2 linked regions of the Homo sapiens genome follow. The protein of the gene in region 1 interacts with the protein of each later gene in a pairwise test. Each region holds a gene or a part of one and is shown in the gene's direction. Other genes may lie near its edges. The genes, in order: NEUROD4 and LRRN2.

What was found.
Region 2: the proteins of NEUROD4 (region 1) and LRRN2 interact in a two-hybrid assay, tested with the Homo sapiens proteins (one large-scale study listed by BioGRID and IntAct).

Annotation. Positions count from the first base shown.
Region 1 is NC_000012.12:55,026,237-55,030,058, forward strand, and holds the end of NEUROD4 (neurogenic differentiation factor 4), read left to right. Parts: intron 1-194; 5' UTR 195-203; coding exon 204-1,199; 3' UTR 1,200-3,781; downstream 3,782-3,822. UniProt on the Homo sapiens protein: Probably acts as a transcriptional activator. Mediates neuronal differentiation. Required for the regulation of amacrine cell fate specification in the retina.
Region 2 is NC_000001.11:204,616,362-204,619,752, reverse strand, and holds the end of LRRN2 (leucine-rich repeat neuronal protein 2 precursor), read left to right. Parts: coding exon 1-1,902; 3' UTR 1,903-2,583; downstream 2,584-3,391.

The DNA of each region.
Region 1 (3,822 bases):
GTCAATTTTCTTTTTCTATAATATATTTTCTTATACTATGCCATAACTAAAGGAGTATTCTGGGAATTTCTTTCAGTTTTGGACTGGTCATTTAGAATGGAAGACTTGGACAAGATAATTACATATAAAAAACTTTAGTTTCAAATAAAATCAGGTACTCACAGGAATTAACCTTTGATATTTCCCTTTTCCAGAGTCTGGAAATGTCAAAAACTTTTGTAAAATCCAAGGAGATGGGAGAGCTAGTCAACACACCATCCTGGATGGATAAAGGTCTGGGCTCCCAAAATGAGGTGAAGGAGGAAGAGAGCAGACCAGGTACTTATGGGATGCTCAGCAGCTTAACTGAAGAGCATGACAGTATTGAGGAAGAAGAAGAAGAGGAAGAAGATGGGGAGAAACCTAAGAGAAGGGGTCCCAAGAAAAAGAAGATGACCAAAGCTCGCCTTGAGAGATTCAGGGCTCGAAGAGTCAAGGCTAATGCCAGAGAACGGACCCGGATGCATGGCCTGAATGACGCCCTGGATAACCTGAGGCGAGTCATGCCATGCTACTCTAAAACCCAAAAACTTTCCAAGATAGAGACTCTTAGACTGGCCAGGAACTATATTTGGGCTTTATCTGAAGTCCTGGAGACTGGCCAGACACCTGAAGGGAAAGGCTTTGTGGAGATGCTGTGTAAAGGGCTCTCTCAGCCCACAAGCAACCTGGTGGCTGGATGTCTCCAACTGGGCCCTCAGTCTGTCCTCCTGGAGAAGCACGAGGATAAATCTCCTATTTGTGACTCTGCCATCTCTGTCCACAACTTCAACTATCAGTCTCCGGGGCTTCCTAGCCCTCCTTATGGTCATATGGAAACACATCTCCTTCATCTCAAGCCCCAAGTATTCAAGAGTTTGGGAGAATCGTCCTTTGGGAGCCATCTGCCTGACTGCAGTACACCCCCTTATGAGGGCCCACTCACTCCACCCCTGAGCATCAGTGGGAACTTCTCCTTGAAGCAAGATGGGTCTCCTGACCTAGAAAAATCCTACAGCTTCATGCCACATTACCCTTCTTCAAGTCTAAGCTCAGGGCATGTGCATTCAACTCCTTTTCAGGCTGGTACCCCCCGTTATGATGTTCCTATAGACATGTCCTATGATTCCTACCCCCATCATGGTATTGGGACCCAACTCAATACAGTCTTCACTGAGTGAGGCAGTTAAGTTCAATGTTTCAGAGAATGACGTGGAGACATTTTCCATAATTCAAGTGGTTGAGCTAAAGATTCAATGACCTTAAAGGATCCCTATGGATATATATCAAACAATAGTTCAAGTCCATTTAGGCTTTCCTTCACCTATCACCTCTTTTCTCATCACCTTCTCACATTGCATTGATTTCTTTATAGAGTCCTCAAGTGAAAATATTTGATGATTTAACAACCATGTGAAAATAGAACAGAAGACCTGGGCCCTATTCCAGTGGTGCCAAAAACTCATTGCATAATCTGTGCCAATTAATTTTCCATTTCTGGCCTTTGTTTATTTACTAGCAATTGTAAATAAACAAATTGTATTTATATGAGGCAACTATTCTAAGTCCAGATGATTTCTAAAGTCCTTCACAGTTCTGAAATGCTATAACTGTGGTGATCACTCTTGACAATTTCTTGAAACTGAAAGAATAGAGAAATAATAGGAAAGGGATGCTATGCATAGAATGATCAAATTGAATTATCAGAGGGATCACAAGGTACATGTCTCTTGGCTCACAGAATGCAAAGCTTGTTTGGATTTAATGATAGGACCTCTTTGTATCTATTGAAAAATAGCTTCTGGAAGCTAAAAGTCTAACATGGCTGTCACTGTGAAGAACAAAACATGTTCGTTAAGAGACTAACTCTATTTGTTATTAGACTAAAAGTTGAACATATCTTCCTTATGATTTGAAGAACCATAATAGAGAACCATAATAGAGGCCTCATGCCAACTTTATTCTTGATAATATTTCAAAACCATTTTTCTCAGTACTAGAGGTAGGGCAAACAAGTCACTGAAGCCTCAGACTCCTATAACTAATGGGACATAGAGAAGTCTTTTAGACCATGACCTCCATAACCAGAGGGCTCTGGAACTTCTGATGAAGCTCAGGTGCTGCTGTTAGAATCAGCACACAACACAGGTTTATATTAAAGAGCAATAAAATAGCTATTGGCTATAATAACTACTATAGTTCAGGGACTCTCTCCAGCTCACAGTTGCCCATGGGAAAAACCAATGGATTTTTTTTTAAGCAAGATGAATTTCATTTGGTTAAACGTGATTAAAACCATCCACCTCTGTCCACACCAATATATTTTCCAGAAGCACAAGCACCAATCAATTTATTGATCAAGGTTAAATTTTTCCAACATATATGTAGTTCCTTATCTCTCCCCCTACACTAATTGTTACCTCTTCCTCACTTCTAAGATAGAATATGTTATTATATATTGTAAATAACATTTCAGGTGACCAAACTTAAGGATGCAGAAATGAAATCCAAGGTTGGTGAATATTTTTACCAACTATGTCTTCATCACAGGTTTAACCCAATTTGCAGAGTGTTTATTTTTCTTTATGTAACTCCTTTTTCCTTTATATCAATGCTAACTTCATCAAATTTGTATTTTTTTTCAGAAAATGGGACCTGAGAAATTTTCCTATCTTGTTCAATCAGCCAGGACAGTTATTTAAGTCAAACCAGAGCCTGAATGGCTTATTTGATAGTAGATTAGGTCCTGCTCCTGCCAGAAAGGATAAGTTTAACATGCAGGGTACATCAATAGGGCCAATTTAAAAAATGATAACACATATTAGTATGTCATTTTCTATAGCTCAGCTATCCCCTAAAATCTGCCAACTATATGTGTATCTTGTCTGTTTACCTCTCTTATTTATTATCTCCATACAGTATAAGTTATTTTTTTTCCATTTTGCTCTCAGCACTTACCCTGCTGTATTTTGCACCCTTGGTTTGTAAATTCACTTGAAAGTAGCCTTGCAGAGAGATCTTAAGCCCCATCAGTCACCAAAGTGGTTCCCTTCATCACAATCTGCCCTAGAGGAAATAGGCAAGTAAAATGATATATAAAGCCATACTATGTGCTTTCTGAGTATATACTGCACTTACCTTTGTGAGCGGCTGTAGGAGGGTCTATCCTCGAAGCTAGCATTTTCTGGCATTTAAGTTTGTAGATAATCACTGTTGTTTGAGTTATTTATTAGATATTATTTATTTAATTTATTTCTCTCTTCCTTTCACGAAAATTCCTTTAGCCCCATAGATGTGCTTGCAAACCCTTCCTAAAATTTTATTTGGAAAGTAGCTCATAATTTTGCTAAGAACTGCTGAGTTTTGGAGTGAGGGGAAAGGAAAAAATAGAGAATTACCTCTGTGATAATTTTTATAAAAAGCAGCAATAATTCGAATGGCTATGCAAGTTAATGTTTTTAGAGTCTTTTCTTCAGTCTAAAATGAGCCAGAGTTATTCTTTAATAATCTGCTGTTTATGCCTTTGGGGAGTATGGTACCCATGAGCCAAGCCTCCCTGAAATTGTACAGAGGGATTTTATAATTGAATTAAAATTTAGGAATGCAATAGCTTGTAAAGAGCCTGCTCTCCAACATAGGGTGGTCTCATTCTTCTGGAGACTTTTTTAGATAAAGTAAAATAATTGTTTAAATATTTTGTTTAAAATATGACTGTTTTTCCTCCCTTTTTCCTAGCAGAAATAAAGCTGTAAGTCTTATTAGATGTTGTGTTGTGCTGTGTTGTTAGTCTTCAGATCTTTCATT
Region 2 (3,391 bases), on another chromosome or scaffold:
ATTGTCCGTGTGGACCAGAGTGAGCTGGGCTACCTGGCCAATCTCACAGAGCTGGACCTGTCCCAGAACAGCTTTTCGGATGCCCGAGACTGTGATTTCCATGCCCTGCCCCAGCTGCTGAGCCTGCACCTAGAGGAGAACCAGCTGACCCGGCTGGAGGACCACAGCTTTGCAGGGCTGGCCAGCCTACAGGAACTCTATCTCAACCACAACCAGCTCTACCGCATCGCCCCCAGGGCCTTTTCTGGCCTCAGCAACTTGCTGCGGCTGCACCTCAACTCCAACCTCCTGAGGGCCATTGACAGCCGCTGGTTTGAAATGCTGCCCAACTTGGAGATACTCATGATTGGCGGCAACAAGGTAGATGCCATCCTGGACATGAACTTCCGGCCCCTGGCCAACCTGCGTAGCCTGGTGCTAGCAGGCATGAACCTGCGGGAGATCTCCGACTATGCCCTGGAGGGGCTGCAAAGCCTGGAGAGCCTCTCCTTCTATGACAACCAGCTGGCCCGGGTGCCCAGGCGGGCACTGGAACAGGTGCCCGGGCTCAAGTTCCTAGACCTCAACAAGAACCCGCTCCAGCGGGTAGGGCCGGGGGACTTTGCCAACATGCTGCACCTTAAGGAGCTGGGACTGAACAACATGGAGGAGCTGGTCTCCATCGACAAGTTTGCCCTGGTGAACCTCCCCGAGCTGACCAAGCTGGACATCACCAATAACCCACGGCTGTCCTTCATCCACCCCCGCGCCTTCCACCACCTGCCCCAGATGGAGACCCTCATGCTCAACAACAACGCTCTCAGTGCCTTGCACCAGCAGACGGTGGAGTCCCTGCCCAACCTGCAGGAGGTAGGTCTCCACGGCAACCCCATCCGCTGTGACTGTGTCATCCGCTGGGCCAATGCCACGGGCACCCGTGTCCGCTTCATCGAGCCGCAATCCACCCTGTGTGCGGAGCCTCCGGACCTCCAGCGCCTCCCGGTCCGTGAGGTGCCCTTCCGGGAGATGACGGACCACTGTTTGCCCCTCATCTCCCCACGAAGCTTCCCCCCAAGCCTCCAGGTAGCCAGTGGAGAGAGCATGGTGCTGCATTGCCGGGCACTGGCCGAACCCGAACCCGAGATCTACTGGGTCACTCCAGCTGGGCTTCGACTGACACCTGCCCATGCAGGCAGGAGGTACCGGGTGTACCCCGAGGGGACCCTGGAGCTGCGGAGGGTGACAGCAGAAGAGGCAGGGCTATACACCTGTGTGGCCCAGAACCTGGTGGGGGCTGACACTAAGACGGTTAGTGTGGTTGTGGGCCGTGCTCTCCTCCAGCCAGGCAGGGACGAAGGACAGGGGCTGGAGCTCCGGGTGCAGGAGACCCACCCCTATCACATCCTGCTATCTTGGGTCACCCCACCCAACACAGTGTCCACCAACCTCACCTGGTCCAGTGCCTCCTCCCTCCGGGGCCAGGGGGCCACAGCTCTGGCCCGCCTGCCTCGGGGAACCCACAGCTACAACATTACCCGCCTCCTTCAGGCCACGGAGTACTGGGCCTGCCTGCAAGTGGCCTTTGCTGATGCCCACACCCAGTTGGCTTGTGTATGGGCCAGGACCAAAGAGGCCACTTCTTGCCACAGAGCCTTAGGGGACCGTCCTGGGCTCATTGCCATCCTGGCTCTCGCTGTCCTTCTCCTGGCAGCTGGGCTAGCGGCCCACCTTGGCACAGGCCAACCCAGGAAGGGTGTGGGTGGGAGGCGGCCTCTCCCTCCAGCCTGGGCTTTCTGGGGCTGGAGTGCCCCTTCTGTCCGGGTTGTGTCTGCTCCCCTCGTCCTGCCCTGGAATCCAGGGAGGAAGCTGCCCAGATCCTCAGAAGGGGAGACACTGTTGCCACCATTGTCTCAAAATTCTTGAAGCTCAGCCTGTTCTCAGCAGTAGAGAAATCACTAGGACTACTTTTTACCAAAAGAGAAGCAGTCTGGGCCAGATGCCCTGCCAGGAAAGGGACATGGACCCACGTGCTTGAGGCCTGGCAGCTGGGCCAAGACAGATGGGGCTTTGTGGCCCTGGGGGTGCTTCTGCAGCCTCGAAAAAGTTGCCCTTACCTCCTAGGGTCACCTCTGCTGCCATTCTGAGGAACATCTCCAAGGAACAGGAGGGACTTTGGCTAGAGCCTCCTGCCTCCCCATCTTCTCTCTGCCCAGAGGCTCCTGGGCCTGGCTTGGCTGTCCCCTACCTGTGTCCCCGGGCTGCACCCCTTCCTCTTCTCTTTCTCTGTACAGTCTCAGTTGCTTGCTCTTGTGCCTCCTGGGCAAGGGCTGAAGGAGGCCACTCCATCTCACCTCGGGGGGCTGCCCTCAATGTGGGAGTGACCCCAGCCAGATCTGAAGGACATTTGGGAGAGGGATGCCCAGGAACGCCTCATCTCAGCAGCCTGGGCTCGGCATTCCGAAGCTGACTTTCTATAGGCAATTTTGTACCTTTGTGGAGAAATGTGTCACCTCCCCCAACCCGATTCACTCTTTTCTCCTGTTTTGTAAAAAATAAAAATAAATAATAACAATAATACGGGGGAAAGGAACGAAAGGAAAATAATCCTCTGAGTATTGAGTGTGGTTAAGGAGCTCTGCTCTGGACTCTCCTCAGAGCCTGGAGGGTGATGGGCATGGGGGCCAGCTGGGATATGAGAAGAGGGACAAGAAAAGGGATAGAGTGAAAGAGGGGACAGTTTTTCCTTTTCGGTTTGAATTCTGGCCCCTGGGCCTGCTTCTGGCCCCCAAGAGTCTCTGTGGCTGTGACAACGACCAGAGTGAGGAAGGGAGGGAGGCAGAGCGCAGGAGGCAAGGAGAGGGGTGGGAGAGAACCATGGAGACGAACCTGAGATGGGGAGAGCGGAAATTTCCATCACCAAATGCCGTCACCCCTTCTCCTTCTCTGATAAGCAATTAACATGCCAGAGCATAGGAAGCACTTCCCAGCCTATTTCTAATTAAACAAACCCAAGAGGCAGAGTCATGCAGAGAGTTGCAAATCATCAAGACAGCAAGAACTTTGGCTCACTAGGGCAGGAGCAGGGCATGGGGTGATAGAGGATTTAGGGAGGGGAGGGCTATGGGATAAGGAAATTACTGCATTCTATCTGTCCATTTCATTTTGGTATAATTTGCAATGAGCATGGTTTGCTTTTTTAGTTTTTTTGTTTTTAAACTGATTGAGTTCTTAGGACTACATGTGAAGAGGAACATCTGTTGGGAAGCCAACAGAGCCAAGGGCAGAGGGGCCACTGTGGACCCATCAAGGGGCTGTGCCAGAGCCAGAGGCCACTGAGCCACCACTCTCCGTTTCTGAGATAGGCTGGGAAGGGAATGGGTTTCCTGAGACTGACAGAAAGCAATGCACATTT